Regions from separate parts of the Homo sapiens genome. Here regions 1 and 3 are each linked to region 2. The links come from fine-mapping of genetic effects on gene expression. A gene starts in region 2. Each other region holds a variant in brackets. All regions are shown on one strand. Distances are from middle to middle.

Region 1 (10,190 bases), 43 kb before region 2:
TATCAAAGAACTGAAAGTCACCAGATCACGGCACCAGGTGACTGCTTCCTTGCCCCTCCCCAGTTCTTGTTTTCTTACACATTGTTACACTTCGTCCCTGATATATAAACCTGGCATTTTAGTAGTCAGGGAGATGGACTTGAGACTGAGCTCACATCTCCTTGGCTGCAGCATCTGACTAAAGCTTTCTTCCTTGGTGATACTCGTCGTTTCAGTGATTGGCTTTCTATGCAGCAAGCAGCAGGACCTAGACCAAACCACTCATGTTTCAGTAACAAGATCTCTGTCCCCAGGCTACAGGTTCACTCACAGTGAACTCAGGTGAAGGTGCAGACCTTAGAGTCAGATAACAGTGAGTTTGAGTTGAAGGAAAGCATTAAGCCTCAGTTTCTTCCTAAACAGGAAAAGTACAGCATCTCTTAGGACCTTAGTGAGACAAAATTATGTAATACAATGAATGCAAAGTGTCTGGTCTGAAGTGAGCATGGCCTTCAGCAAATAACTTCTGTGAGCCTAAATTTTTTAATCTATGACTTTGATATAGTAGAATAGTGGTTTGTTATGAAATGAAATAGTGTACAAACACAACAGACACACAGTACTTCTCCACTTCCTGCCCCTGCCCCTGCCCCCAGCCCCAGCCAGCCAATCACAACTTTTACATTACAAAAAAGTCTGTTTCAATTTCCTGATGCATTTCTGTGAAGAGTAACTCACCACAGTAATGAGCAAAGATTAATTTAAAACATAAATAGAGCTTAGGCAACATAGGAAGACTCTGTCTCTACAAAAAAATCTTTTTATTAGCCAGGTGTGGTGCCACATGCCTGTGGTCTCAGCTACTTGGGAAGCTGAGATGGGAGGATCACTGGATCCTGGTAGGTTGAGGCCGTGCAGAGTCATGATTGTGCCACTGCACTCCCGCCTGGGTAACAGAGCAAGACCCTGTCTCAAACGCACACACAAAAACACACACACATAAATAGGCCGGGTGCAGTAGATCACACCTGTAATCCCAGCACAGCACTTTGGGAGGCCAAGGTGAGAGGATTGCTTGAGCCTAGGAGTTCAAAGTTTCAGTGAGCCATCATTGTGCCACTGCACTCCAGCCAATGCGACAAAGCGAGACTCCATCTCAGAAATAAATAAAATGAAATAGGGATGAAAAATATATGAGTGAAGAAAAAAATGACCATCTTAAGAAAAAAACCTGAAAAGTCCAAATGCATGAGACAATATTGTAGCATATATGCAACCTTCAAAATATGCCCAGTGGTATATCACTGGTTTCTTTCTCCGATTAATAAAGAAAAAAAGTTTGGGGGAAGAGTCTAATTTTTGGAAATTGGGCCACTTGTACCATAGTTTATTCTTCTTAAAAAATTATGACTTCACTTTTATGTTAAATATTTGTTTGAAACAAGCTGAGGCAAGTTTTATTAAAGAAAAATTTTGCTTGATGGCTGGGCACGGTGGCTGATGCCTGTAATCCCAGCACTTTGGGAGGCCGAGGCGGGCAGATCACTTGAGGTCAGGAGTTCAAAACTAGCCTGGCCAACATGGTGAAACCTCTTCTCTATTAAAAATACAAAACTTAGCTGGGCATGGTGGCAGGCGCCTATAATCCTAACTACTTGGGAGGCTGAGGCAGGAGAGAGAATTGCTTGAACCTAGGAGGCAGGGCTTGCAGTGATCCAAGATCACATGCCACTGCACTCCAGCCTGGACAAAAAAAAAAAGAAAAAGAAAAAAAGAAAAAGAAAAATTGTGCTTGTTTTACTTTTCACCAGTCTGCTCTGGCATGCTACTAATGATATCAGAATGGGGTCAATGATAGCCAGTGTGTGCAGTATTTTCCCCAACCTGTGCCCAATTCCAAATTATTGCCACTGTGGTGATGGACACCAGTTTTGGCCAGTGTGGCATTGTACTTTATTTTATATTTCCTCAAAGCTGGGCAGTTGTGGTGAGGTCAACTGATTTCGCTTTGCCTTGTCTGATCATATTCAGAGTCTGCTTGCATCCCAGCATGTACTATCCACTTTTCACAATGAGTTGGAACCTAGAGTTTATCAACTCTAGTGACTTTTTCATCTTCACTGCAGCCAGCATCTTCCTGCCTTAGAGATGCGATGCCCCCCAGTCAAGAGCAGCCACCAAGATAGCCAGGGAGCAAGAAAGGAAGGAGTTCTCACAATGCAAAGTTCTTCACAGCCTACATTAAATAGTTTTTAAAATCATAGTCTCCGGTTCTGCCTATTGGGTACATTCCTCATTTTTGCAGGCTTTAATGACTTCCCACTAAAATGTAACAGGTTTATAATGGGGTTCTATAGACATATATATTACTGGTATACTAAAACCTGATTTTCCGAGTGCTATTTATACTACTTCCCAATCCCACTATTCAGCTACTTATACAAAATCCTCATTCATATATTCTAGTACTTTCTTTTAGTTGGGATGTAAATGTGTTGTTAATTAATTTACTTAAAAGGGCATCAAATGCCATTACCTTGTTAAAGGGTGCCAAAGATTTAAGCAAAATATTCAGTGGGGCTGGGTACAGTGGCTCACACCTGTAATCCCAGCATGTTGGGAGTCTGGGGCGGGTGGATCATTTGAGACCAGGAGTTCGAGACCAGCCTGGCCAACATGGAGAAACCCCATCTATACTAAAAACACAAAAATTAGCCGGGCATAGTGGCGAGTGCCTGTAATCCCAGCTACTCTGGAGGTTGAGGCACGAGAATCGTTTGAGCCTGGGAGGCAGAAGTTGCAGTGAGCCAAGATAGCACCACTGCACTCCAACCTGGGTGACAGAGCAAGACTCTGTCAAAAAAAAGAGAGAGAAAGGGAGAGAGAGAGACAGAGAAAGAAGAAAGAAAGAAAAGAAAGAAGAAAGGAAAGAAAAGAAAGAGAGAAGGAAAGGAAAGAAAGAAGGAAAGAAAGAAGGAAGGAAAGAAAGAAAAGAAAGAAAGAAAGAAAGAGAAAGAAAGAAGAAAGAGAAATGTTCAATGGGTTCTGAGGCAATTGGTCTAAGAGAGTTGTGGAGGGCAAGACCACACCCTCTGTGATGGTGCAGTTCTTCCCTTGGAGGTGTGGCAGTCCTCCTGAGGGGAGACGGATTCTAGAACAGAAAATAATGTGGGGCAGTGCACCTTTCATTAGAAGGAGGAAGGAAAACCTTTCCTTTATCTTGTCTTCTGCCATTCGGCTTAGACTCTGAGAGTAGAGAATCTTAACGCTACACACAGTAGTAGTGGGACTGAGACTTGGGCTATAGCAGTGTTGGTTTGGGGCCAGTCAGAGAAAGTTCCATAAAAGACCCTGAGTAAGGGTCTGGCCCTTATAGTTTTTTGTTTTGTTTTGTTTTTAACTTTAATTTTAGGCCGGGCCCAGTGGCTCACACCTGTAATCTCAGCACTTTGGGAGGCCGAGGTGGGTGGATCACCAGGTCAGGAGTTCAAGACCAGCCTGGCCAACATAGTGAAACCCATCTCTACTAAAAATACAAAAAAAAATAGCCAGGCGTGGTGGCAGGTGCCTGTAGTCCTAGCTACTTGGGAGGCTGCGGCAGGACAATCGCTTGAACCTGGGAGGTAAAGGTTCGCAGTGTGCCAAGATTGCGCCACTGCACTCCAGCCTGGGCAACACAGCGAGACTCTGTCTAAAAAATAAATAAATAAGTAAAATAAAAAACTTTAATTTTTAAGTTCAGGGATACGTGTGCAGGTTTGTTACATAGGTAAGTCTGTGTCATGGGGGTTTGGTGTACAGATTATTTCATCACCCAGGTATTAAGCCTAGTACCCATTAGTTATTTTTCCTCATCCTCTCCCTCCTCCCACCCTCCACCCTCCTGTAGACACCAGTGTCTGTTGTTCCTTTCTTTGTGTTCATGTGTTCTCGTCATTTAGCTACTACTTGTTAGTGAAAACATGCATATTCAGTTTTCTGTTCCTGGATTAGTTTGCTAAGGATAATTGTTACAGGTAGTTAGGCATGAGCAGGGGTCAGGAGAAGACTCCCCAACCCACTAGGAATGTGGATGATGGTTCAGTAATTATCACATCACCTCTCTAAAAGTGATACATTGGCAGCCGGTGCCAGGGAGAGGCCATTTCCTGATGGTCCACACCTTTTGCACTAAGGTGTTAATTGAATACAGACACCAGGGCGAAGCAACTTCCCAGGCATGCGCATTAAGAGACAAAATGGTGGAGTATGACCCTCCAAGAAAACACCACCAAAAAAGGGGAGAAAGCTTCAGATGGGCATGTGTACAACTTCCTAAACACGTGCACCCAAAGATAAGGAGGGCGCTGTGTGTGTAGGCAGCCCATCCTAAGGGAAGAGTCATGGGAAAGCCAGCCTATAAAGTTCCAGGGTCAAGGTTAAACACCACACTTGATCTCAGTGCCTGCTTGGGTCTCTTACAAGCCTACTCTCCTTTTCTTTCTTTCCTGTTCTAAAGCCTTTTAAATAAACTTCCACTCCTGCTCTGAAATTTGTTTCGGTCTCCTTTTCTGCCTTATACCTCTCAGTTGAATTCTTTCTTCTGAGGAGGTAAGAATTGAAGTTGCTGCAGACCCATACAGATTTGCCACCAGTAACTCAGATACCTTCCACCAGTAACATAATGGCCTCCAGCTCCATCCGTATTCTTGCAAAGGACATGCTCTCATCAATGGAAGACTAGATAAAGAAAATGTGGTACATATACTCCATGGAATACT[A/G]TGCAGCCCTTGTAGTTTTGCATTACTCTTAGCTTTCCGTATCTGTAAAGCATTCAGTAAAGCTACATCAATTGTCAGGCCATGAGCCATCCAGCTTCTTTCTCTTTGGAGACCAGATGTCCCAAATTATCATCACAGTCTCATGGATTAAGAACAGCAGATAGCTGGGCACAGTGGCCCATGCCTGTAAACCCAGAACTTTGGGAGGCCAAGGTGGGAGGATCACTTGAAGCCAGGAGTTCCAGACCAGCCTGGGCAACACACCAAGACCCCATGTCTACAAAAAAAAATTTTTTTAATTAGCTGACTAGTGGTGGATGTCTATAGTCTAGCCACTCAGGAGACTGAAAAATACATAAATGGCCAGGTACGGTGGCTCATGCCTGTAACCCTAGCACTTTGGGAGGCTGAGGCGGGTGGATCGTCTGAGCTCAGGAGTTCTCGACCAGCCTGGGCAACACAGTGAAACCCCGTCTCTGCTGAAAAATACAAAAAATTAGCCGGGCGTGGCAGCATGTGCCTGTAATCCCGGCTACTGGGGAGGCGGAGACAGAAGAATCACTTGAACCCGGGAGGCAGGGGTTGCAGTGAGCCGAGATCGCACCATTGCACTCCAGCCTGGGTGGCAGAGCGCGTCTCCATCTCAAAAACAAACAAACCAACAAAAAAAAACCATAAACATTTAGTCTGGGTGCAGTGGCTCACGCCTGTAATCCCAGCACTTTGAGAGGCCAAGCCTGGCAGATTACTTGACATCAGGAGTTAAGACCAGCCTGGCCAACATGGCAAAACCCTGACTCGCCTAAAAATACAAAAATGAGCTGGGCATGGGGGTGCATGCCTTTAATGCTGGCTACTCGGGAGGCTGAGGCACGATAATTGCTTGGACCTGGGAGGTATAGGTTGCAGTGAGCTGAGATTGTGCCAGTGCATTTCAGCCTGGGTGACAGAGCAAGACTGTCTCAAAAAAATAAAAATAAACATTTACACAAGATATTTTAGTTTTCTCTTGCTTCATAAAAAAAAAATCACTCTAAAATTTAGTAGCTTAAAATAACAATGATCTATTATTTCTCTTGATTCTGTAGGTTGACTGAATTTAGCTGGGTGGTTCTTCCACTCCACTTGTTGTATTTGAAGTCACTCATGAGGCTATGTTCAGCCCGAAGCACACCTGGGGCCAAACCATTCCAGAGAAGCTCATCTTCTAGAGTGTCTCTCCACATGGCTCTCATCATTCAGTGGTCTGGCCTGAGCTTTTGTACAGCACAGTGGCTGACTTCAAAGATGTTGAAGGTGGAAGCTTCCAGAACACTTAAAGCCTAAGTGTGGAAGTGGCAGAGTCACACAGGATGCATTGTATTGATTAAAGGAAGTCACCAGGCCACCTCAGTTAAAAGGAAGGGAAAATAGACTACTTGATGGGAGAAGCAGCATGAGTGCATAGGGTAGGAGAAATTGTTGATGGCCATGTTTGCAGACAAACTACCACACACAGTAATATATAAGATCATTATATGTATTTCCTCTCTGTCTCTTTAAACAGCTATCAAAGAATTTGTCCTTATTTTATTGTTTTTTAACTTTTCAGCATGAACCCACAGGACATAGAGAGTCCATTTTCCTTCTTTTTTTCCTTCTTTCTCTCTCTCTCTTTTTCTTTCTTCCCTTTTTCTTTCTTTCTTTCCTTTTTCTTTCTTTCCCTCTCTTCTTTCTTTCTCTCTCTCCTCTCCTCTTTTCTTTTCCTTCTTTTTCTCCAAGAGACAAGTTTTTGCTCCATTGCCCAGGCTGTAGTACAGTGGTACAGTCATAGCTCACTGTAGCCTCTTAACTCCTATGCTCAAGCAATCTTCCTGCTCCGGCCTCCTGAAGTGGTAGGATTAGGGTGTAAGCCACTGCACCTAGCCTAATTGTCACATCTAAATGCAGTAACTTTTCCACAACTTTGTGAAGGTAGCAATTTATTTTGAAATAAAATTTACATAGCCCAGATCCTCTCTCAGTTGTGTTTGCAGCTGCTCAGCCATCTCTTTCTGGTATCAATGCCACCTCTAGCTTGCTGAGCTCCAGGCAAAAGGCAGGGGGCTGGTAAGGAACAAGTTTTCTATACCACAGCTCTTTCTAAGCTGATTGCCTGCAAATCAAGCAGGGAGTGAAGAAATCTTATCACTACAGGCCTGGCACTCTGGCATTCCTTGAAACCAGACATTGTTAGAAGTTCACTAAACTTTTATTTTTCAAATGTCTCATCCAGCATCTGGTGTGAGAAATTGTGTAGGACTTTAACACTGATCTTGGAGTTTCCAGAGTATAGCTTTTGGTGCTTGAAGGAGGCACGTGAAGCCTATCTGACTGCCCTATTTGAAGTTACTAACTAGTATGTGATCCTAGTATAATAATTATGAAAAAAGACATCCAGCCATTCCCTAGTATATATACAAAAAGAGCTTAAAATCCACTGTGATCAGGTGCATCTCATTCTCAAACAAAACAAAACATGTTTGTCTTCCCTGTTATTATTTATTCTGACCATTAGATATTTGGTGGGGGCAGGGAGAGAAGTTAAAAGGTATCTAAATATATTATTGTTACATTAGACTGGGTGGCTTAAAAAACAGAAATGTACTTTCTCACAGTTCTGGAAGCTCTAAGTTCAAAATCAATATGTCACCAGGCTTGGTTCTACGAATAAGACCTCAAAAGCACAGACAACAGAAGCAAAAATAAACAAATGGGATTATATCAAACTAAAAATCTTCTGCACGGCAGAGGAAACAATCAAGAGAGTGAAAAGACAACCTACAGGATCAGAGAAAATATTTTCAGACTACTCATCCCACAGGGGATTAATATCCAGAAGATACAAAGAGTTCAAACATCTCAATAGCAAAAAACAAAACAAGAAAACGTCTGATTATAAAGTAGGCAAATGATCTTAACAGAAAGTTAAATACCGCATATTCTCACTCACATGTGGAAGCTAAAAAAAGTTGATCTAATAGAAGTAAAATGTGGAACCAGAGGATATTAGAGACTGGGAAGGGGAGGATAGGTAGAGATTTGCTAAAGAATACAAAATTACAGCTAGATAGGAGGATAAGTTCTAGTGCTCTGCAGCATTGCAGGTTGCTTATAATTAACAATAATGCGTTGTATAGTTTCAAATAGCTAGAAGAGAGGATATTGAATGTTGCTCTGTGTGTGTGTGTTTGTGTGGGTGTGTGTGTGTGTTTTAAGATGGAGTTTTGCTCTGTCACTTAGGCTGGAGGGCAGTGGTGCAATCTTGGCTTACTGCAACCTCCACATCCCCGGTTCAAGCAATTTTAGTGCCTCAGCCTCCCAAGTAGCTGGGATTACAGGTGTGCACCACCATGCCCAGCTAATTTTTGTATTTTCAGTAGAGATGGGGTTTCACCATGTTGTCCAGGCTGGTCTCAAACTCCTGACCTCAGGTGATCCCCCAGCCTCCGCCTCCCAAAGTACTGGGATTACAGGCGTGAGCCACTACGCCTGGCAGGATATTTGCTAGAGCAGGAGCACCGTCATCTCGGACAAACACCACCACTTTAAGTTCCAGCTCCCTTTCTAGCCTCATGCATTTCAAGGAAATCACTTCTCTTCTAACTACAAGCAGCCAGAAAGAGCAGACAGTAAAACACAGATAAGACCGCTTGGAAACAGAGGGAGGTGAGGAGAAAGTCTCTTGGGTAACTGCCAAACTTCACCCTCATACAATGGGCCCCAGTAAGACAGTGGGCCTTAATAAGCACTTTTCTTTCCCTTCAGGAATACTAAGATAGAGAAGCTAAAAGCAGACTTGGGGGATATGCCTGCAGCTGCAAAAAGGTGTATGGGAATAGAAACGCAACTGTCCCTCCCAGATAAGCACAACAAAGAGACACAGAAGCAGTCCAAGCCTCTTATAAACTCTCCTATCCTGAATCTTTAGAAACTCTTAGTCTGTTAGAGAGTGTGGCTCTGACCTAACTCAGCCAACCGCCCTTCTCAGGTTTATTTAAAATAAACCTGCCCCTGTTGACTGAAAAGCCATCCTTTGTGTTTCTCTCCTCTTTCTTTAATTCTTACAATATTAAATGTTGTCAACACAAAGAAATGATAAATCTTTGAAATTACCAATATGCTAATTACCCTGATCTGATCACTATGCATTGTTTGTATTAAAACATTATGTAGGGCCGAGCGCCGTGGCTCACTCCTGTAATCCCAGCACTTTTAGAGGTTAGGCGGGCAGATCACGAGGTCAGGAGATTGAGACCATCCTGGCCAACACAGTGAAATACCGTCTCTACTAAAAATACGAAAAATTAGCCGGGCGCGATGGCGGGCCCCTGTAGTCCCAGCTACTCGGAAGTCTGAGGCAGGAGAATGGCGTGAACCCGGGAGGTGGAGCTTGCAGTGAGCCAAGATTGCATCACTGCACTCCGGCCTGGGCAAAAGAGCGAGACTCCGTCCCCCCCAAAAAAAAAAAACATTACGTAGCCCATGAATGTATACAATTATTATTTTTTAAAAAACGAAAAAAACATGTAATATTGACAGCAACTAATTAGATGAGTTTTGTAGCATTTTTAGCTTCTATCCATTCAGTATTCTTTTTTTTAGACAGAGTCTGGCTCTGTCACCCAGTCTGGAGTGCAGTGGAGCGATCTTGGCTCACAGCAACCTCTGCCTCCTGGGTTCAAGCAATTCTCCCGCCTCAGCCTCCCTAGTAGCTGGGATTACAGGAGTGTGCCACCATACCAGGCTAATTTTCGTATTTTTAATAGAGATGGGGTTTCACTGTGTTGACCAGGCTGGTCTCGAACTCCTGACCTCAACTGATCTTCCCACCTCGGCCTCCCAAAGTGCTGGGATTACAGGCGTGAGCCACCACATCCAGCCCATTCAGTATCTTTTTATAATTAAATTTAATTTTTTTAAGTATGTTTTTTATATATATGTTTATACATATTATATATGTGTTTATATATTTTATATATGTTTATATATAAAACATAAATATATATTTATATATAAAAATATAAAAACTATATATAAAATATATATAAACATATAATGTATAAACATGTTTATATATTTTTTAAATATTTATATATAATTTATATATATTTATATATAAATATACTTATAAAAATTATATATAATTTATACATATTTATATATAAATATACTTATAAAAATTATATATAATTTTTAAAAATATATATATAAATATATTTATAAAAATTATATATAATTTTTAAAAATATTTATATATAAACATATATATCAACATATATAAAAAATATATATAAACATGTTTATATATATATATACATGTTTATATATATATATATATATATATATATATATATATATATATATTTTTTTTTTTTTTAGACAGAGTCTCACTCCGTTGCCCAGGCTGGAATGCAGTGGTGCAATCTCAGC
Region 2 (10,190 bases):
CCTTAATTATTACACAACTATAACACAACACAAACAGTAATCTCTCCCCTAGTTTAGAGTCCTTTGCATGAAATTTAGCAAATCTATCATTTTGAATACAGTACAAGCCTGGTAATCCAGTGTATTTGGGATAGGCCAGTGGAACTCAGAACTGATACATATATACATGTATGTCTATCATATTCAATGTCTATTAGGTGTAAATCATCTCTTCATGTAAAAGACACTACTGGTTTGAGGGTAGACTCGTCTAGGAATATTTTGTCCTTCTGTGACAGCACCACTATCCATCCCAATGTAACATTTCTACAAAGGGAAGATATCTTAACCAGGCATACTTATATTTGCTAGTTGGAAAATCATTCTGAACAGTTTTAATTCCATTCTATTGAATGGATTATTGTATGAGCTATTTGGGGATCAGATATAAATGACAATCACACAGAACCACTTTTATTCAACATAGATAAAATGTGATGAGTGTTAACATTTTAAATAAGCAATCTGCTTAATGGACATTGGTATGAAGGGGAAGTGTCATTCTTTACCTCACTCCTCAAACACTTTTCTATCCAAAGGTTGGTTTGAGTCAGTATTGGCATCATACAACCACTTACTGTAAAATAAGTTTATTAGTGGTAACGTGATAGAATTTATTCCCGATATCTGATGTTACAAACTTTAGGGTCCTTGAGATATGCAGGATCCTTGTATGTAACTGGCATAAACCCTGTAAAGAGATAATTAAAGTTCTTGACAAAACATAATGAGCAAAATTTCAGCTAGCTCAATTCAGTTGTTGAGGTATTCTTTCTTACCCATTATTTGAGCTCTCTTAATTGCTTTTGTGATTTCTTTCTGTTTCTTCCCACAAAGACCTGTAAAATAAAAAGCTTTCTTATTCATAAAAAATGTCAATATTTAAAGTTTGCAATTTTTTTTTTTGAGATGGAGTCTCCCTGTGTCACCCAGGCTGGAGTACAGTGGTGCTCTCTCGCCTCACTGCAACCTCCGCCACCCAGGCTCAATCGATTATCTTGCCTCAGCCTCCTTAGTAACTGGAATTACAGGCATGCACCGCCACACCCGGATAATTTTTTTGTATTTGTAGTAGAAACGGGGTTTCACCATATTGGCCAGGCTGGTCCTGAACTCCTGGCCTCAGGTGATCTGCCCACCTCAGCCTCCCAAAGTGCTGGGATTACAGGTGTGAGCCAACATGCCCAGCCTCAACAAGTTTTTAAGTCAAGGATTGGTAAATCATTTTTGTCAAGGGCCACAATAATAATCTAGGTTTTGTGGGCCATACAGTCTCCATCACTGCCACTCAACTCTGCTGTTGTAGCTCGAAAACAACCATATGGCACTACGTAAACAAAACTACAAAAACAAGTGGGGTTGGGTGCAGTGGCTCACACCTGTAATCCCAGCACTTTGGGAGGCCTAGGCAGGTGGATCACCTGAGGTCAGGAATTCAAGACCAGCCTGGCCAACATGGAGAAACCCAATCTCTAAAAATACAAAAATTAGCCAGGCGTGGTGGTGCATGCCTGTAATCCCAGCTATTCGGGAGGCTGAAGCATGAGAATCACTTGAACCCAGGAGGCAGAGGTTGCAGTGAGCCGAGATTGTGCCACAGCACTCCAGCCTGGGTGACAGTGAGATTCCATCTCAAAAAAAAAAAAAAGTGGCATTTGTATATGATGAACCTAATCAAGATAAAAAGGGAGCAGGTCGAATTTGGCCTATGGGCCATAGTTTGCTGACACCAAGTTTAAGTATCAATCTAGGAATGATTATAGTATATTCCAAAACATCAACAACAGTTTTTTAAAGCCCAGTTTTTCTATATAGTTAACTCTGCATAAGACAGCAAAATAATAATCCTCTTGGCCTAAGAGACTTTTTCATAGTAACTAGCTCTAGTCCCTGTAGTATCTGATCTAGTAGTAATTTATAGCACAATTTGAAAATTTGAGTTTTCTTAAATGATAGAAATAGATTGATATAATTCGTATCTACATTTATATTCCCATAATAAAAAAGAACATACCTGTAATGTGCCTTCCATAAATGCATCCAGTAAATGGAGAAACAAACTGGGACAAAAGCTGTTTTGGAGTTTTATGTGGAGGGGAAAAAAAAGTATCTGTTATTTATTTCTGAATGTGTAAATTTCAAAAAACAACCTTCAGGTTATATAAAGCTTTACTAAATTTCAGACACATTTCATAAAATATAAGAAAAAAATATTGTTATCCTCCTGTTACCTTTTAAATATTTTCTATCCAGTGTGTCAAGTCTATATATAATTAAACAGCAGATTAATCAGCATATTCATTCAATGGTAAATCTGTTTTCTTGACTTCCACAGATACCTTTCTAAAATATTGCTTGAAACAAGCTACTAAAAAATTTCATCTATCCTGACAAGCTATCACATTACCCTCTGATAATCATTAAGATAAATTATCAGGGGGTAATGAGATTTTCAAGAGGTACAAGTACACCAGGCATTTGCTATAATTTATGTTTTATTTAAATACTTCTTTAGAACCTTTCTAGGTGCTAGTCATTATTCTTGGCACTTTGCATAATCTTCCTAGTATGTGTGTTTTTGTAATTCTTGGTTCTTCCTCAAAGGCAGCTATCACTTTATACTATTGTCAATATATGGAATTCTTTTTTTTTTTTTTTTTTTTTTTTGACAGAGTTTTACTCTTGTCACCCAGGCTGGAGTGCAATGGCACGATCTCAGCTCACTGCAACTTCCGCCTCCTGGGTTCAAGCAAATCTCCTGCCTCAGCCTCCCAAGTAGCTGGGATTACAGGCATGCACCACCACACTCAGCTAATTTTTGTATTTTTAATAGAGACGGGGTTTCACCACATTGGCCAGGCTGGTCTCAAACTCCTGACCTCAGGTGATCCGCCCGCCTTGGCCTCCCAAAGTGCTGGGATTACAGGCGTGAGCCACCACACCCAGCCAACATACAGAATTCTAGCGCTATTCACTTGCCCCAAATTTGCAACTTCTAACTTGCTGAGAGTTAGACAAGAGATAAGTAATATGTGAATCAGTGATATGGGTGGTGAGATAAAGAGATCAGCTTCACCAGATGAGCTTTTTCCAAAGTTCTGACCCTCACCAATTGAGAATTACTGCCACAGGGAGCTATTAAGATGTTTGGGGTAGTGAAAAAAACAGAGTGGAAATAACAGTAAGTGGGGGAAAGCCAAGGTGCTTTTACTTGAATAAAGCAGAGATAAGCTTATACATAGAATTATAACCAAATTTGAAATTATGAAGTTGCTAAAACAGTTACCTCTACAAAAGCCTGCTATAAACTGACTTGATTCTCTTTAAGCAGATCTATCAGAAGCAAAACCCTAAAATATAGTGAAGTAAAACCAGATCTCACCTGTACATTCTTATAATCTACATGCTTTCCACACAAGATACATTTCTTAAGAGGTTCTTTATAAGGATTTTCCATTGAAATGGGCTAGGGAAAAAAACGAAAAGTCTGATAATAGGATGTGTTAATTCTGAATTTTAAAAGGTTACTATTCTACATTCAAATCCATTCAAAGGATTAGTTATACCTTTCTTACTGTGTACATATTTTGTATAAGCACTTTATTTTGTTTTAGTTTAGCCTACGGATTAACGCATGGGAAGATTCTGGAATAAAGTACAATCTTCATAGAATAAAATTTTATGGCAGAACAAAAATGATGTCTGATAAGAAAGTGTTCCAATGCTTTGCTCAGATTGTAGATAATGAAAAAATTTTTAGATTTAAGGAAACTTACAACACAATAGATAACATATGCCATTCTTAAATGAGTACAATCCCTAATTTATCCATCCCCATGTCTCTATCAAGTATTTTATCACTATTTTTATACACAGATAATGGCCCATGACTTACTGTAATAAAAGGTTCTTTGACTTTATCACCCCAGGCTACTATATAAGTTTGTATCAGTCTTTTTGGCTTTTCTGTTACCACCACTGCCTCTAATGCTTTTGTCACAGTGCCTCCTTCCTACAGTCAGTATGGCTGTCTCCAGGATAGAGGTTCTTAATCTAGAAATGGCTTTGAAGCCCATGACTCCCTGTAATCGTATGCAAAACTTCAAATGAATGGGACTGTGTGCCTTTTTCTGTGGAGAGGGTCCATAACTTTGATTAGAGACAAAGTGGGATTTATGAACTAAAAAAGAAATAATGTCCCTTTACTTTCTTAAAGTATGGTGCATGGATTAGATTACCAAGACAGATGCTCAGAGAAACTAGACAAGTTCTTTTGTTTTTTCCAATTCCTCAAACTTTCCAATTTACATTCAGCTCACGTAACTACTCTTCAGCTCTGTGCCAAGTGCTTTGTATGGTCTAATTAGTGTCAAAATACCTTTGCATGTAGCAAGAACCTGTGCTTTCAGAAAGTCCATGTTAATACTATAGCCAACCTATAGCTAAGCTTTGTACAGTCTCTTTTCAGTTATCTAAAATTCTGCTCACCCAAACTACCTTTTAAAATTCCCATATCATTTGCTTACAAAGGGCTATGTAAAAAAAAAAAAAACAATTCCCAAATCACATATCCTTAAATTTAAGATCTAGGAAGAAAAATATGGTATTATAGCAGCTTTGCTTCTAATCTAGGAATTCCCCTACTTCAAAACTCAGCTGACTACATGACTACAATCAATTCATCATCATTTCTGAACTCAGAGTAATTATCAAATTGTTTTGTCCTACGGCAGAACTCTATTCAAGTAGCTAAAATAAAAGATGTTAGAGTCTAATACCAGATCTCGTTTTAAAAAGAAAAACATTTTGGTCATATTTGCAAAGGCCTTACTAATAGAAAAAAAAATTCTTACCAGGTCCTCATTGCTGGATACCTGTTGTGAACAACCTCTTCTCCAAAGCACTGCGATTAAACAGAAACAGCAATTAACCATTTCTTTTTCTTAGCTGAATAGCTAAAGATTTTTGTTTTTATGGAGACAGGATGAATTAAGGGACACGATATTAAAGAAAGGTTTTGTATTATATTCAGAATGGTTAAAAACTTTTATATTTGGGACAGAGTAAGACTCAACATGGGTGTGCTTTCCAGGGCTTAGGGGGAAAAGAACATATTTTCCCGCCCATACCTGCTCTTTCTGACATTTATTTTCCCTTCATTCCATGGTTAGAGAAAATTCTTAATGCAAATTCTTATAGGAGAAGCAACAGAAAGGCACTGTCATACCAAAAAGAAAGTAACAGACCCGTCCCAGAAAGAATTTATAGAGAAGCACAGAGAAGATAAAATTGCAAAAATTATGCAATTTTGTTCTGTTTGGGGACCTTAGACATCTGGAATTTGCTGCTGGGCGACTCTGGAAATGTCCCTTCCTCACTAAGATTATCCAGAGATCTTAGGAAAGTCTCTGCTTTTTAAGAACCACTCCAACTTCCTCATACGTTTAAATACTTTAAAGGAGTGGATTAGACGACACTAAAACAGTCAAAGGCAATTACAGATTCCCACCCATCTTGGAGAAACTTAATCGCCTAGAAACCAGAGTCGTTTTGCTAACAGGGACGACTCTAACCATTAGGACTAAGGTTAATGCCTGCAGCGCTACAATGGAGCATAGGATATGGAGACTTTACCCGTGTGAGTCCCGGGATGTGTAAGGCTGACAGCAGCCGTTACCAAGTGTGTCAACTTCTTCCTCCCTAGACCACCGCAAACAGCAACCACAGCGGCCATGGTTCCGCGTTTCTTCCACTTCCTTTCGTTCCAAATCGTTCCGAAAGGCCCCTTCCGCTGCTCTTCCCCTGTGGGCTCGAGTACCCCGTTCAAAGGTTCCGCAGGAGAACGCTGAGGACCCGCGAGAGTAGGTGAGGTTTTTCAATACGCATGCGCAGCACCTTTCTGTTCGTGCCCTCCCTACGCGGCAGGTCACGTGAGGCTTATGATTGGACAGGGTAGAAGTTTATGCGTGCTTCCGGTCCGCGAGCCCTGAGAGCTAACTTGGGGTCTTTTCCCAAGGTGGATGTAGAAGCGGGCTCCGGCGTCCCACTCTCCCTTCCATATGGGCTTAGCGTCTGGGTCACTGAGAACGACGTCTGAATAGGGCCCTGGGTCCTTGCCATGGATGAATGTGGTTCCCGCATCCGCCGGCGGGTGTCTCTCCCCAAAAGGAACCGTCCAAGCTTGGGGTGTATTTTTGGCGCTCCCACCGCGGCCGAGCTCGTGCCCGGAGATGAGGGGAAAGAGGAGGAGGAAATGGTGGCTGAGAACAGGAGGCGGAAAACCGCGGGCGTACTGCCGGTTGAGGTACAGCCCCTTCTACTCTCAGATTCCCCGGAATGTCTCGTCCTTGGAGGTGGTGATACAAACCCGGACCTCCTACGTCACATGCCCACTGACAGAGGGGTGGGAGACCAGGTACGGAGGACTTGGAACTTGAAACTGCAAACTTTTGGCATCCTTCCCAGATGCAAAGAGTTGACCAGTTTTATCGCCTTCGTTTACTTCTCTCGTCTTCGTTACCACTGTTAATCGGCACTTAGGAGGTATTGATTGCCTTGTTATTTACATTTCTATATAAATATGAAATGTAAACCCCGAGACATAAAAGTTGTGCACGCAGCAGTTAAGTGGCATGACTGAGACACAAATCTAGGCTTCCAGATAACTGCAGCTCCTACTGTACAAATAAAATCTGCTGTTTATTGAAGACCCGTTATGTTAAGCTAGTTATATTATCTAGATTTTACGACAGTAATCAGGCCCTGAAAAGTTGAGATAGTACAGTTCTTGCTCCAAATCCTGTTGTCTTAATCACTTTACTATATTGCTGCCTCCAGGTTTGTGTGTCTTCTGTGTAGCAGACCACTCCAAGTCAGTATTCAGTTTCTCAGTCTCAATTCCAAATTCCTAGGAACTCCTTGGAGTGTCTAGTGGTACAACCATGTTTCTGTTAGAGGCCAGTCACTGTAGATTGTAGTCTGGGAGGGAAGCGCTGCAGTTATCAGAAACTTCGAATGCGCTGACATTTCAGTAGACGTCTACCAGTCTTCCTGCTGTTTTAGTACAGCTTTAAGAATTACAATCTGGCCGTGTGCAGTGGCTCATGCCTATAATCCCAGTGCTTTAGGAGGCAGAGATGGGAGGATCACTTAAGCCCAGAAGTTCGCGTTCAAAACCAGCCTAGGCAACAGAGACCCAGTCTCTACAAAAAAAAAAAAAAATTTTTTTTTCTTAATTAGCCGGGTGTGGTGGCCTGCACCTGTAGTCCTAGCTACTTGGGAGGCTGAGGCAGGAGGATCGCTTGAGCCCAGGATGTCAAGACTGCAGTGAGCTGTGATCGTGCAGTGGCTGGAGCCACTGTGCTCCAGCCTGGGTGACAGAGCCAGACCCTGTCTCAAAAATTAGAATCTCAGTATCATCGTAACACTCCTGAACCTGCTGTTTAGGCAAGTAATTTAACCTCTTTGGGCCTCCATTTCTTCAGCTGTAAGATATCTATTTACATATAGGTCTGTGATCCATATGTGACCATATAATTATATACTTGGTACAGCCCTAGGCTGAAGTGTTTTTTGGGGGTTTTGTTTGTTTGTTTGTTTTGGTTTTTTTGAGACAGAGTCCCACTCTGTTGCCCAGGTTGGAGTGCAATGGCGCGATCTGGGCTTACCGCAACCTGCGCTTCCCAGGTTCAAGCAATTCTCCTGCCTGAGCCTCCGAGTAGCTGGGATTACAGGAGCATGCCACTATGCCCGGCTAATTTTTGTATTTTCTGTAGACACGGGGTTTGACCATGTTGGCCAGGCTGGTGAAGCTTTTATTCTTAATGAAACTGGAATTGACCATAAGCGTTTTTGTTCTCTTTGCAGCCTAATGACAGTGAAGTGGACATGTTTGGTGACTATGATAGCTTTACTGAAAACTCCTTTATAGCTCAAGTTGACGACCTGGAACAAAAATATATGCAACTCCCTGAACATAAGAAACATGCTACAGACTTTGCCACTGAAAATCTTTGCTCGGAAAGTATCAAAAACAAACTCAGCATTACTACCATAGGCAACCTTACTGAATTACAAACTGATAAGCACACAGAGAACCAGAGTGGATATGAAGGTGTCACTATTGAACCTGGAGCTGATCTTTTGTATGATGTACCTTCCTCACAGGCTATATACTTTGAAAATTTGCAGAACTCTTCAAATGATTTGGGTGATCATTCTATGAAAGAAAGGGATTGGAAGTCATCCTCTCACAACACTGTGAATGAGGAACTGCCCCATAATTGCATAGAGCAACCCCAGCAAAATGATGAGTCCTCTTCCAAAGTCAGAACTAGTTCAGATATGAACAGGAGAAAAAGTATTAAAGATCATCTAAAAAATGCCATGACTGGAAATGCGAAGGCCCAGACACCAATATTTTCTAGAAGTAAACAGCTCAAAGACACTCTCCTATCTGAGGAAATTAATGTTGCTAAGAAAACAGTTGAGTCATCATCAAATGACCTTGGTCCTTTTTATTCATTACCCAGCAAAGTGAGAGACCTTTATGCCCAATTCAAGGGAATTGAAAAATTATATGGTAATGCTTTTTGCTGGAATAAAAAAATTTTTTTCCTATCATTACCATAATATTAGTGCAAGTAAATAGAAGCAAATGCTTTCATGGTCCATACTGTTTCTCATTTTGAAAACAAAAGATCAGTGATCTCTCAGCCCCTTCCATTCCTACCTGTCCTGCTACCACTGAACCTCTTTCCTTCCCTCACAGTCACACTTATCAAACCAGTTATCCTTTCTGTCTGTTTCCTTACCTGACATAATTCCTCTAATTCCTCATCTATAAGAAAGGGATAATAAGTTGTTAGCAAGTCAGATTCTGGTTCAAAGACATGCCAAATTCAATGTTGGTAATGATTTTCAATAATTATATTGGTAGCTTCTAAGTAAGAACTTTAGTAAATTACCCCACTCTAATTCTGGGTTCTGTGCTCTCATTCTCTCACTTAAGATCTGATGACTGAGACGTCTAAACACAGTGTTACTTTTAATGTTTACCTTACCTGACTTCTCAATAACTTACCTGATGCTATTGACTACACCCTTCTTGAAATTCTTGTTTCTGGATGTCCTTACAACCACTCCTGTTTTTTGACCCCGATTGTCTAGTAGAGATCCTCAGCTTTCTTAGTTGTATTTCCTTGGCTGGCTCTGTCTTCTCTACCAAAACCTAGCTGTTGTGGTATGTCTTTGACACTCACATGTCTTGAGTGAAAGAAGTCAGTTATTAGTAATACTGTTGATTAAACCAAACATCTTTCCCCCCACACCAGCAGCCGCAGCTACCTCTCCCCACGGGTGCATCCCTGCCACCACCCAGATGCTCTGCCTTGTGCTGCCTTTCCCAAAGCTAGACATCTTTAAAGACAGCTGCAATTAAGTTTTAAGTCAGGGATGTCCAATCTTTTGGCTTCCTTGGGCCACTTTGGAAAAAGTATTGTCTTGAGCCACAATAAAATACAGTAACACGATAGCTGATGAGCCAAGAAAAAAAATTGCAAAAAAAAAAATCTCATAATGTTTTAAGAAAGTTTACAAATTTGTGTTGGGCCACATTCAAAGCCATTCTGGGCCTCATGAGGGCCGTGGGTTGGACAAACTTGTTTTAAGTGCAAAGAAGCAATAATATTAAGAAGGTATCTTGTAATGTTTTTCAAAAATCCAGGGTCCTTGCATATATTTCAGATATGTGTCATTTTAGACCAAGAAGGGACAGTTGCTGCCATACTGGAGGGTCAGCCCCATCAACCTTCCACTTCGTAAGTTTTCTGGAACTCCTGTTAGGATCTTATGAATGATATGAAAACTTGGGTTCTTGCAGAGAAGACAATCAGGTTGGAGAAGCAGAACTACAGGAAACAAAGTCTAATAAAAGACTCTACAAGAATCCAAATTGTGAGGTTCATGACTTAAGAGCTAATGGTGTGTGTTGCCCTGGAAGTAGACGTTAACTTTCTTCCCTCTGTTCTTCCCTCTGTTTTTCTGCTAGCACCTTGCTTTTTGTTTAGTCTGCCAGAATGAATATCCTGAGGACAAGGCTCTATCTAACTCATCTTTTTGTTTTTGTTTTTGTTTTTTTGTTTTTTTTTGAG
Region 3 (10,190 bases), 21 kb after region 2:
ACAGTAGTTTTAGAATTCTGTGAAGATGTGTTATTCTACAGCTATGTCTTTAGTAAAGTTGAAGAAATAGATTTTAAATAACTTCACATTTTTTCTTCATGTTCTTTGTGTTCCTCATGTGACTACAAAAATTGTCATAATTCAGTAGTATGATTGAATCTGTGTTTTTGAAAACTTAATGGTTGTAAAGGGCATGTCTTATTTACACAGTCCGTTAACTATTATTAGGATCAATCTGTGTTTCTCTCTGTGGACTTTTTTGTTCTGCTGTGGTGGAGATGGGCATGTAGTGAGGCTATTAATAACATTAACTATTTTCACTTCTTTAATTTTCTTTAATTCACTTGTTTAATTCTAGGTTTTTTTTTAGACTAACTAGACCTAAGAAAATCATAATAACCTAAAAGAAAAGTGAGATTGAACATTTTGATGTTTAATATAGATTTCATCTTTTCTTTTAAATGATCAGATTTATTAAATTAGAAGTTTAGAATTATAGATGGTTTATTTACCTTTCAAATCACACTGGTAAAAAATTGACAGGGTTTCATGTTTACTAACCACTTTGTTCCTACATCTTGTTGTTTTGCAGTATTCTGATACCCTAAAAAAGATGGATCCTGATCACTTGGTAGCATTGGTGACAGAAGTTATTCCCAATTATTCCTGCTTAGTTTTTTGTCCTAGTAAGAAGAACTGTGAAAATGTAGCAGAAATGATATGCAAATTTTTAAGCAAGTATGTTAATATTTTTTAAATAGCCTGTTTTATTTTTATTAGGAATTACAGACTATGTATTAATTTTATTGGGCAAACACTAATTATGCCTTGCAAAACATCATATTAAGTTGTTTTAGTATACTGAAGGCCTTGACCTTGAAGAAAGAAATTTTAACTGTGAAAAATCACATGTGAAATAGCCAGAGAAACATTCTAAGGTGGCTGGGCACCATGGCTCATGCCTGTAATCCCAGCACTTTGGGAGGCCGAGGTGGGTGGATCACTTGAGGTCAGGAGTTTGAGACGAGCCTGGCCAACACGGTGAAACCCCATCTCTACTAAAAATACAAAAAATTAGCTGGGTGTGGTGCCTTGCACCTATAATCCCAGCTACTGGGGAGGCTGAGACATGAGAATCTGTTGGACCCGGGAGGCGGAGGTTGCAGTTAGCTGAGATCGCACTACTGCACTCCAGCCTGCGTGACACAGCGAGACTCCATCAAAAAAAAAAAAGAAGACCAGGCACGGTGGCTCATGCCTGTAATCCCAGCACTTTGGGAAGCCAAGGTGTGCGGATCATGAGGTCAGGAGTTCAAGACCAGCCTGGCCAACATAGTGAAATCCTGTCTCTACTGAAAATACCAAATTAGCTGGGTGTGGTGGCGTGCACCTGTAGTCCTAGCTACTCGGGAGGCTAAGGCGGGAGAATCACTTGAACCTGGGAGGCAGAGGTTGCAGTGAGCTGAGACCACACCATTGCACTCCAGCCTGGGTGACAGAGGGAGACTCAGTCTCAAAAAGAAAAGGAAAAAAAAAAGACAAAACCCTAAGACTATATGTATGAGAATGTTAAGTAATATTAGGTCAGTGATTCAAAACCTTGGGTGCATAGTGAATCATCTTGGAGGCTTTTAAAAATTCCAAAGTCCAGGCTACATCTTAGACAAATCAGAATCTCTGGGAGTGACACCCAGATATCATTTTGTAAAGCTCCCCAGGCAAGTCCAACATATAGCCAAGGACAGGAACAACTGGCTTAGTCAGTCAAAGGACTAATCACTGTTACCACTGTGGAAATGAATTGTATCTTCCATTGCCTTTTTTTCTCTTTTCCTTTTTTTTTTTTTTTTTTCCTGAGACAGGGTCTCACTCTGTCACCTATGCTGGAATGCAGTAGCACAAATTCAGCTAGCTCACTGCAGCCTCTGTCTCCTGGGCTCAAGTGATCCTCCTACCTCAGCCTCCCAAGTAGCTGGGACTACAGGCACACACCACCACTCCCAACTAATTTTTTGTAATTTTCATGGAGATAGTATTTCACCATGTTGCCCAGGCTGGTTTCGAACTCCTGAGCTCAAGCAATCCGCCCCCCATAGCCTCCCAAAGTGCTGGAATTACAGGCGTGAGCCACTGCGCCTGGCCTGCCTTTGTTTTCTTAGTAAACTTCACACTTAGTTGTATGGACATTTGGATATAATTTCCTGAGTAAGAAATGTGTTGTCTTATAATTTTGTAGTATCTTAATATTGGCTCTGTCGTATTCATAGAGATAAGTATGAAGTTACTTTAACTACTAACAGTTCAGTTTTTTATACACCTGTTTGTCCCATGTGTGGTTTTATCATTTTCTGAGATTTCTTTCAGCCCCTTAGCTAATGCTGTATCACTATTCATAGTCTATTAACCTGAATGCTAATCTAGTCAACCTCTACCTCCTCTTTCAATCCTACTATCATGGATTGGTCTAAGATAGACTTAAATTTATTGAATAGCAAAATATAAAAATGTTTGGAATAAGATGAAGGAGTTGCTCATTTTGGTAACAGTCTGCTTTTACAATGATTTTGATTATAAAAGCTTAAGGAAATTAAATTATCATTAAAAAAATTCTCAGTAAATCATTCATTTTCTTAGAGTAATTCAAGGTAATAAGATGGAGACACTGGCTAAGTGATGGAAACATTGTAGGATGTGAAGTTTCTAAAGTGCAAGTGTTTAGGCAGTGTTTTACCATGGAAGTATGATTTAATAATATGTATGTTTCCATCTTCAGAAAAGAAAATTTATGTCTTTAAAAAAACTATCCCCTATAAAGATATATGTTATAAAGAAAAAAACAGTTATAACATCCAGAGCAAAGGTCTAAACCTGGTGTCCATGGATTCAAAGGAAGTACAGGAATGAATTTTAGGAAATCCACGAACCCTCTGAAATTATATGTAAAGTGTTGTATTTATGTAAATAGTTATATTTTTCCTTTTTTTTTTTTTTTTTTTTAGACAAGGCTTTGCTCTTTCACCCAGGCTGGTAGGTTCATAGCTCATTGCAACCTCAAACTCCCGGGTTCAAGCAATCATCCCACCTCATCCTCCCCCATAGCCTGGAACTGCAGGTGCATGCACCACCATGCCCGGCTAATTTTTGTTATTTTTTGTAGAGGTGGTCTTGCTTCACTGCCCAAGCTGATCTTGAACTCTTGGGCTCAAGCAATCCTTCTGCCTCTACCTCCCAAAGTGCTGAGATTACAGGCATGAGCCATCGCATTTCGCCTTTCCTTAGTTTTGATAAGATTTTCACAGGGTTCTGTAATCCACAAAAAGATTGAGAGACTGCCTAATAGTTAATGAAGTCAGAATCAAAATTCTAAGAACATTTAATGTACTTAACTCAATGGAAATAGTACATTAAAGAATGTTTACATTAGCATCTACTAAAATGAAAATGGTAGAAATTTTGTCACTAAAAGATCAAGGGCTCATATTTCTAACAGATCTTTTTCATAGGGAATATCTGAAACATAAGGAGAAAGAAAAATGTGAGGTGATTAAGAACTTGAAGAATATTGGCAATGGCAACCTGTGTCCTGTTTTAAAGCGCACTATCCCATTTGGAGTTGCCTATCACCACAGTGGCTTAACAAGTGATGAAAGGAAACTCTTGGAGGAGGCCTACTCCACAGGAGTGCTCTGTCTTTTTACCTGCACATCTACCCTAGCGGCAGGTGTCAACCTACCAGCTCGAAGGTAAGAGATAAGTAAGTGTTGACCAGGCTCAGAACTTTTCCATTTCTAGCTTGCGAGGAGTTTTGTTGTTTTATGCTTTCTCAGTAGTGGATGAGAATTTATCAAATGTTCTTTTAGCATATGCTGAGTTGATTGGTTGGTTTATTTTCTTTAATATTTTAATGAATATGTAATGAAATATGTAATGAAAAATAACGTTAATAGATTTCTTGATATTAGAATTCCATCCTTTCTGCTCTTTATATCTGGTTTTGATGTTAGGGTCTATTAATCTGGTTTTGTAGAAATAGTTGGCAAGTGTTTTACCTTTTTTATGATATGAAAGAGTTTATTTAACATAGAGATTTCCTTGAAATCTTGGAGAGCTGATCCATAGGCAATTTGTGTCTAATATATGTATTTTAAAGCAGGCCCTTGATTACCTTTCCAGTTATTACCAAAGGTGTAGGCCTGTGTAATTGACTTCTCCCCTTTATAATTTATGATCATGGGGTATTTTGCTAATAAATGATCAATTTTTATAAACTTTCCATGAGTGTTTAAAAAAATATGTATTTTCAGTTGAATATGCAGTTTTGTACATCTCAGCGAGATCACAGAGGTTCATTGTGTTATCGGCTTCTCTATTTTCTTACTATATTTGATTCCTTGGTCTATCAATTTCAGAGAAGTGTGTTAGTCTCCCACTTTAATTATGTAGTTATCAGTTTCTCCTTTTTGCATCTCTAGAAGTTATTACTTTTTATATTTCAAAACTATTTAGATATACAAAGGTTTACTTCAAATATCTTATTGCCGAATTATACCTTTTATCAATACAATAAATACTTGTTTTTCTCATTTAATAATTTTGCTTTGAATACCAGGACTCATTTTTTTTTTT[TG/G]CCACGTATGTACCTTTTTCCATTCTTTTATTTTCAATTTCTGTCTCTCATTAAGTTTTCCATTTTTCAGACAATTGAAGAAAAAAATGAAAGTTATATATCCTGTTTCTATTATTCCAGTGGTTACTCTTAAAATTTTAAGTTGTAACCAAACATTTTTTATTACTTTAGAATTAATCAATAACTGTCCTCTCCTGAACATAAAAAGAGGCTTAGCATGTCCTTAGTATATTCTACTCTGCCCCATGAATGTTGCAATTACTTAGAATTTTAGTGCCAGATTTAAACATTTTCTTTCATCTTATGTAGTATTTAAACTTACCTGTAAATCATACTTCTTTTTTGCTTACCACTGCCTCTTATATCCCACATCTTTCTTCTCTGATTTTTTTTTTTTTAATTTTGCCTTCCTTGAGTAATCCTTTTTAGAATACCGCTTTAGGGGGTAAAACATTTTGACTCTTTGCATAGTTGAAGATATCTGTATTTTGGCCTCACACTTTTACACTTCACTAGCAAAAGAATTCTAGATTCAATTTTTTTCCTTTAGGGATTTTGTAAATATTGTTCCATATTTTCTAGAGGCCAATGTTGCTCATTTTTGTCTCTGCATGGATTTTCTGTTTTTCTTTTCCAGAAACTTTTAGACTTTTCTCTTTAACCTCCCAATTTTGTCATGGTGTATAATAATAGTTGTAATTACTACATTCCCCTCCCTTTCATGTAGTAACAACTTTACATGCATTGACTTGATACAGCTTCACAATAACTCTGTGAGGAAGGTCATATTTTATTACACACCTATTATAGAAGGGGAAACTGAGGCACTAAATAATTAAATAATTTTCCCAACTTTAAAAAGTTACATAACTTTTTCCCAACTCATTTTCCAACAAATGAGTTTTAAAGCCAGTGTTTGAACCCAGGAAGTTTGATTTTACAATCCCAACAGTACTACTTTTCATTCATAGGGCTTAGCACTTGGGTGGATGCTTTTAATCTAAGCTTTATGCCTTTCTTCTTTGAGTAATTTTTTTTCTGTTATTTCTTTTTCTTCCCATTATCTCTGTTCCTTGCTTTTATAATTTCACTTAGGCAGGGTTGAGGCCTCTTAGATTCAGCTTTCGTATCTCTTTTCTTACACATTTTTCAGAATGTGGAAGAATGTAAGCACACGTTTGTGCCATGTAATTTTTTTCAACTTTACCTTCCATATCAAAAAATCAGTTTTTTTGTAATCCCAGCACTTTGGGAGGCAAAGGTAGGAGGATTGCTTGAGCCCAGGAGTTTGAGACCAGTCTGGACAACATAGCAAGACCTCATCTCTACTAAAAAATTAAAAACTTAGCTGGGCATGGTGGCATACACTTGTGATCCCAGCTGCTCGAGAGGCTGAGGTGGGAAGATTGCTTGAGCCCAGGACATCGAGGCTGCAGTTAGCTATGATTGTACCACTGCACTCCAGCCTGGGCAACAGTGAGACCCTGTCTCAAAAAAAAAAATGAGTTTTTAACTGATATCCATTAACTACATTAACTGTATCCATTAACTATTTTCATTCATTATTCAGTTCTTCAATTGAATTTTCTTTTTTGTGAGACAGAGTCTTACTCTGTTGCCCAGTGGCCAGGCTGGAGTGCAGTGGTGCGGTCTCGGCTCACTGCAACCTCTGTCTCCTGGGTTCAAGCGATTCTCCTGCCTCAGCCTCCCAAGTAGCTGGGATTACAGGCGCCCACCACCACACCTGGCTAATTTTTATATTTTTAGTAGAGTCGGGGTTTCGCCATGTTGGCCAGGCTGGTCTCAAACTCCTGACCTCAGGTGATCTGCCCACCGTGGCCTCCCGAAGTGCTAGATTGACAGGTGTGAGCCACCACACCTGGCCCTTCAAATTTTTTATGAATTTTTAAATAAAGTTAATTTTTTTTTATTTCTAAGAACTCTCTTTTGTTGTTCTTTCCTTATAATAGTCTACTCCTTTTTTTTTTTTTTTTGAGACAGAGTCTCGCTTTGTCTCCAGGTTGGAGTGCAGTGGCATGATATCTGCTCACTGCAACCTCTGCCTCCCGGGTTCAAGTGATTCTCCTGCCTCAGCCTCCCAAGTAGCTGGGATTACAGGCACACAACACAATGTTTTTTAGTTTTTGTGTTTTTAGTAGAGACGGGGTTTCACCATGTTGGCCAGGGTGGTCTTAATCTATTGACCTCGTGATCCTCCTGCCTTCGCCTTCCAAAGTGCTGGGATTTACAGGCATGAGCTACCACACACGGCCAATAGTCTACTCCTTTTTTTTTTTTTTTTTTTTTTGAGACGGAGTCTCGCTCTGTCACCCAGGCTGGAGTGCAGTGGCGCAATCTCCGCTCACTGCAAGCTCCGCCTCCTGGGTTCACACCAGTCTCCTGCCTCAGCCTCCTGAGTAGCTGGGACTACAGGCGCCTGCCACCACGACCAGCTAATTTTTTTATTTTTAGTAGAGACGGGGTTTCACTGTGTTAGCCAGGATGGTCTCCATCTCCTGACCTCGTGATCCGCCCCCCTCAGCCTCTCAAAGTGCTGGGATTACAGGCGTGAGCCACCACGCCCCGCCAATAGTCTACTCTTATATTGTGGATATAATACTCTTTGGAATTTTCTGTTAATGCTAATTAGGATTTTTAAAAGTTCTCTTCTGATCCCTATATTATCTGGTTTTGTGGTCACTTATTCTGTATATTCATGTTATGTTTCTTTTATGTTATTAGTTTTCTTCAAGTATTTGGTAATCTTTTCTGCATATGAGATTTATAAATAAAGAGGAAGTTGACTAGTATAGGTAAACAATAGGTTTTTTCTTCCCTTTGGATAAGAAAGCTGACTAACTGACTATAGACTTCTGTATATATGAACATAATTGAAATTGCTTTTTTTTTTTAAGAGATGGGGTTTCACTCTGTTGCCCAGGCTGGAGTGCAGTGATGTAATCACGATTTACTGCAGCCTCAACCTCCTAGGCTCAAGTGATCCTCCCACCTTAGCCTCCCAAGTATCTGGGACTACAGGGGCACACTACCATGCCCAGCCAGTTTTTTGTTGTTGTTGTTGTTGTTTTTGTAGAGACTGCATCTCACTATATTGCCCAAGCTGGTCTCAAACTCCTGGACTCAAGCAAACCTCCCACATCAGCCCTCCAAAGTGCTGGGATTACAGGCATGAGCCACTGAGCCTGGCTGAAATCACCATTTTTGTAGGTCAAAAACAGTTGACATCTGCAATTTTATACAGTTCAAAATAATAAAAATTCATAAATAGATATGTATATGTTAGTGGTGTATGGTCATATTTTTTATTTATGGAGTATAAAGTCCAAACGCTTTGGAGACTACTGCTACAGATTGATCATAGGCATTGCAGCTGGGCAGACTTGAGTTCAAATGATAGCTCTGGTAATTACTAATTTTTTAGTTTAGGATAAGTCAGTTAACTGAGTTGTAATTAATTCCTTTATAAAAATGAAATAAAAAAGTATATTATAACTAAGAGTTTTGTAAGAATTATAGATAATATGTGTAAAAACCTAAGAAATCATAGATTCTTGGTAAACACTAGTTACCTATTATTTTGTGTTAGTATGTCATTAAATTTAATATCACAAATATATAATGAAATTAAGAATTTTTTAAATTGGTGCTGTTTGCTGTAGAGTATCATTTTTCATTAATTCCACAGAGTTATTTTAAGAGCTCCCTATGTTGCTAAGGAATTTTTAAAGAGGAATCAATATAAACAGATGATTGGCAGAGCTGGTCGTGCTGGAATAGATACTATTGGGGAGAGTATCCTCATATTGCAAGAAAAAGACAAACAACAGGTAATACTCAATTTGGTTGGTTGGTTGTTTTTGTCTTTTTCTTGGTTGTTGGTCTAGCCCTTTTATGAAATCATCTTTTAAAAATTAATTATTAATTTTCTTTAAATGATGCTTTCTTTCCTATATGATTAAGAATTAGAGTGGTTTGAAAATGTATGTATTTCAGACAATGAAAAAATATTTTTCCTATTTGTTTTTCTTCCATTTTTAATGAAGATAAATGTTAAATTCTTTTGTCTTTACTTTTTTGGTCTCCTTCTGGCTCCACAAGATTTATGTAAAGTATAAAATATTTATATTAAATACCATTTATTTTTAATAATAACACAAGGCATGGTTTTGCTTTAACCTTTATAGGTATTGGAGTTAATAACTAAACCATTGGAAAACTGTTACAGCCATCTTGTTCAGGAATTCACCAAGGGAATCCAAACATTATTTCTCTCTTTGATTGGTTTGAAGGTATTTTTCTTAAATTTTTTATCTTATTACTGTTATCTGAGACAATAGAGGTTAAAAAGTTATGCAATAACTTTATATATGCAACTGTGTAGATTTTATACTAATTTTTTATTTAATAATTTTTTCTTTTAATTTTTTTCTTTTTAATTTTGTTTTCTCATCCCCTTCAGTGATTAATGTAAATAATTTTTAAAAGATCATGGAATGGTTAGGTGCAGTAGCTCACACCTGTGATCCCACCTCTTAGGGAGGCTGAGACAGGAGGATCGTTTGAGCCCAGGAGTTCAAGACCAGCCTGGGCAACATAGCAAGACCCCATCTCAAAAAAAAAAAGATCACTGAATCCTAATGCTTGGCAAGTGGTTGGCACTTAATAAATACTTGAATTAATGAAATTGGCTTTTTTTTTTCTTAGAGATGGGGTCTTGCTATGTTGGTTAGATTGGTCTTGAACTCTTGTCCTCAACAGTCCTCCCACCTTAGCCTCCCAAAGTGCTAGGATTATAGGCATGAGCCACTGCGCCTGGCCTGTTTTGTTTGTTTGTTTGTTTGTTTTTTCTTTAATCTGGGACATGGTGATGAAATTAACTTTGGAACTGAGCGTGGGTGAACTTCCAAGTTGGGGCATCAGTGGAGAATCTGGATTTGAGAAGCCAGAAGCAGAGGCTGGCCCAGTGGGTTTCAATTACTATGTCAAAAACTTTTTCAGGGAGGAATAGAAAGATAACATGATGGTAGATAGAGGGATCAAGTAAAGGTTCCCCTGCCCCCCTGCACTCTTCCACCCCCAGTGTTAACTCTAATCATTTAGGTAGGAAACAGTACAAAAACAAAGTACATTAATAATCCAAAAACCAAGTATCAGTTCTTAAATATCTTAAAAGTATAATTTTAGCTTAATTGAATACTATATTAATAATGATTTTTATTAAAGTGGGAAGAAGCAATAGAAAATGTCTGTGCTCCATTATATTTTTCTTACCCCTTATATTGGTTTAATATGAAATTACGACTTAAATTTTCCAGTTGAAATAGCATCAGAATTGTAAGAGAGAGAAATATACTTATTGATTGACTATATTTTAGTATAACATGCTGATTTCATTGAAATTGGCTAATAAAAATTATTCTAATTCAGAGTCAGCTCTACATCTGAATACTAAATGGAGGGTTAAGTATTCCTTATGATTGCCATTGTAAGTTATAAATAGTGAATAACAGTGAAAGAACAAGAAATGGAGATAGGAATGAGA

Direction of the effects. Alleles are on the strand shown, and positions count from the first base shown. SD is a standard deviation of normalised expression in the study named. Not every link is listed here.
In carriers of allele G in region 3, the expression in B cells of the gene that starts at base 5,793 in region 2 tends to be higher than with TG alone (large effect, 1.0 SD a copy in Schmiedel 2018).

Evidence for each region. PIP is the estimated chance that this variant, and not a neighbour inherited with it, causes the effect. A credible set is the group of variants that fine-mapping cannot tell apart.
Region 1: its variant is the best candidate, but not a certain one, in a credible set for the expression of MRPS18C in whole blood (INTERVAL, PIP 0.54).
Region 3: its variant is the best candidate, but not a certain one, in a credible set for the expression of MRPS18C in B cells (Schmiedel 2018, PIP 0.72).

Annotation. Positions count from the first base shown.
Region 1 is chr4:83,494,621-83,504,810 of GRCh38, reverse strand. It overlaps the pseudogene RPL30P5. Among named protein-coding and RNA genes, the nearest start is that of ABRAXAS1, 15 kb to the right of the region's middle. The variant A/G (reference allele first, on the strand shown) is at 4,740.
Region 2 is chr4:83,451,661-83,461,850 of GRCh38, reverse strand. MRPS18C (mitochondrial ribosomal protein S18C) reads right to left here and starts at 5,793. Exons shown (of 6, transcript NM_016067.4): 1 at 5,674-5,793; 2 at 4,893-4,942; 3 at 3,422-3,505; 4 at 2,054-2,111; 5 at 819-878; 6 at 1-730. The coding sequence starts at 5,773. The coding sequence ends at 654. HELQ (helicase, POLQ like) reads left to right here and starts at 6,028. Exons shown (of 18, transcript NM_133636.5): 1 at 6,028-6,454; 2 at 7,906-8,620. The coding sequence starts at 6,158. ABRAXAS1 (abraxas 1, BRCA1 A complex subunit) reads left to right here. Exons shown (of 9, transcript NM_139076.3): 9 at 1-2,334. RefSeq lists enhancers at 5,741-6,035, 6,022-6,131, 6,472-6,521, 5,950-6,780.
Region 3 is chr4:83,430,411-83,440,600 of GRCh38, reverse strand. HELQ (helicase, POLQ like) reads left to right here. Exons shown (of 18, transcript NM_133636.5): 8 at 593-738; 9 at 3,504-3,743; 10 at 8,334-8,475; 11 at 8,833-8,937. Among named protein-coding and RNA genes, the nearest start is that of HELQ, 20 kb to the left of the region's middle. The variant TG/G (reference allele first, on the strand shown) is at 4,627.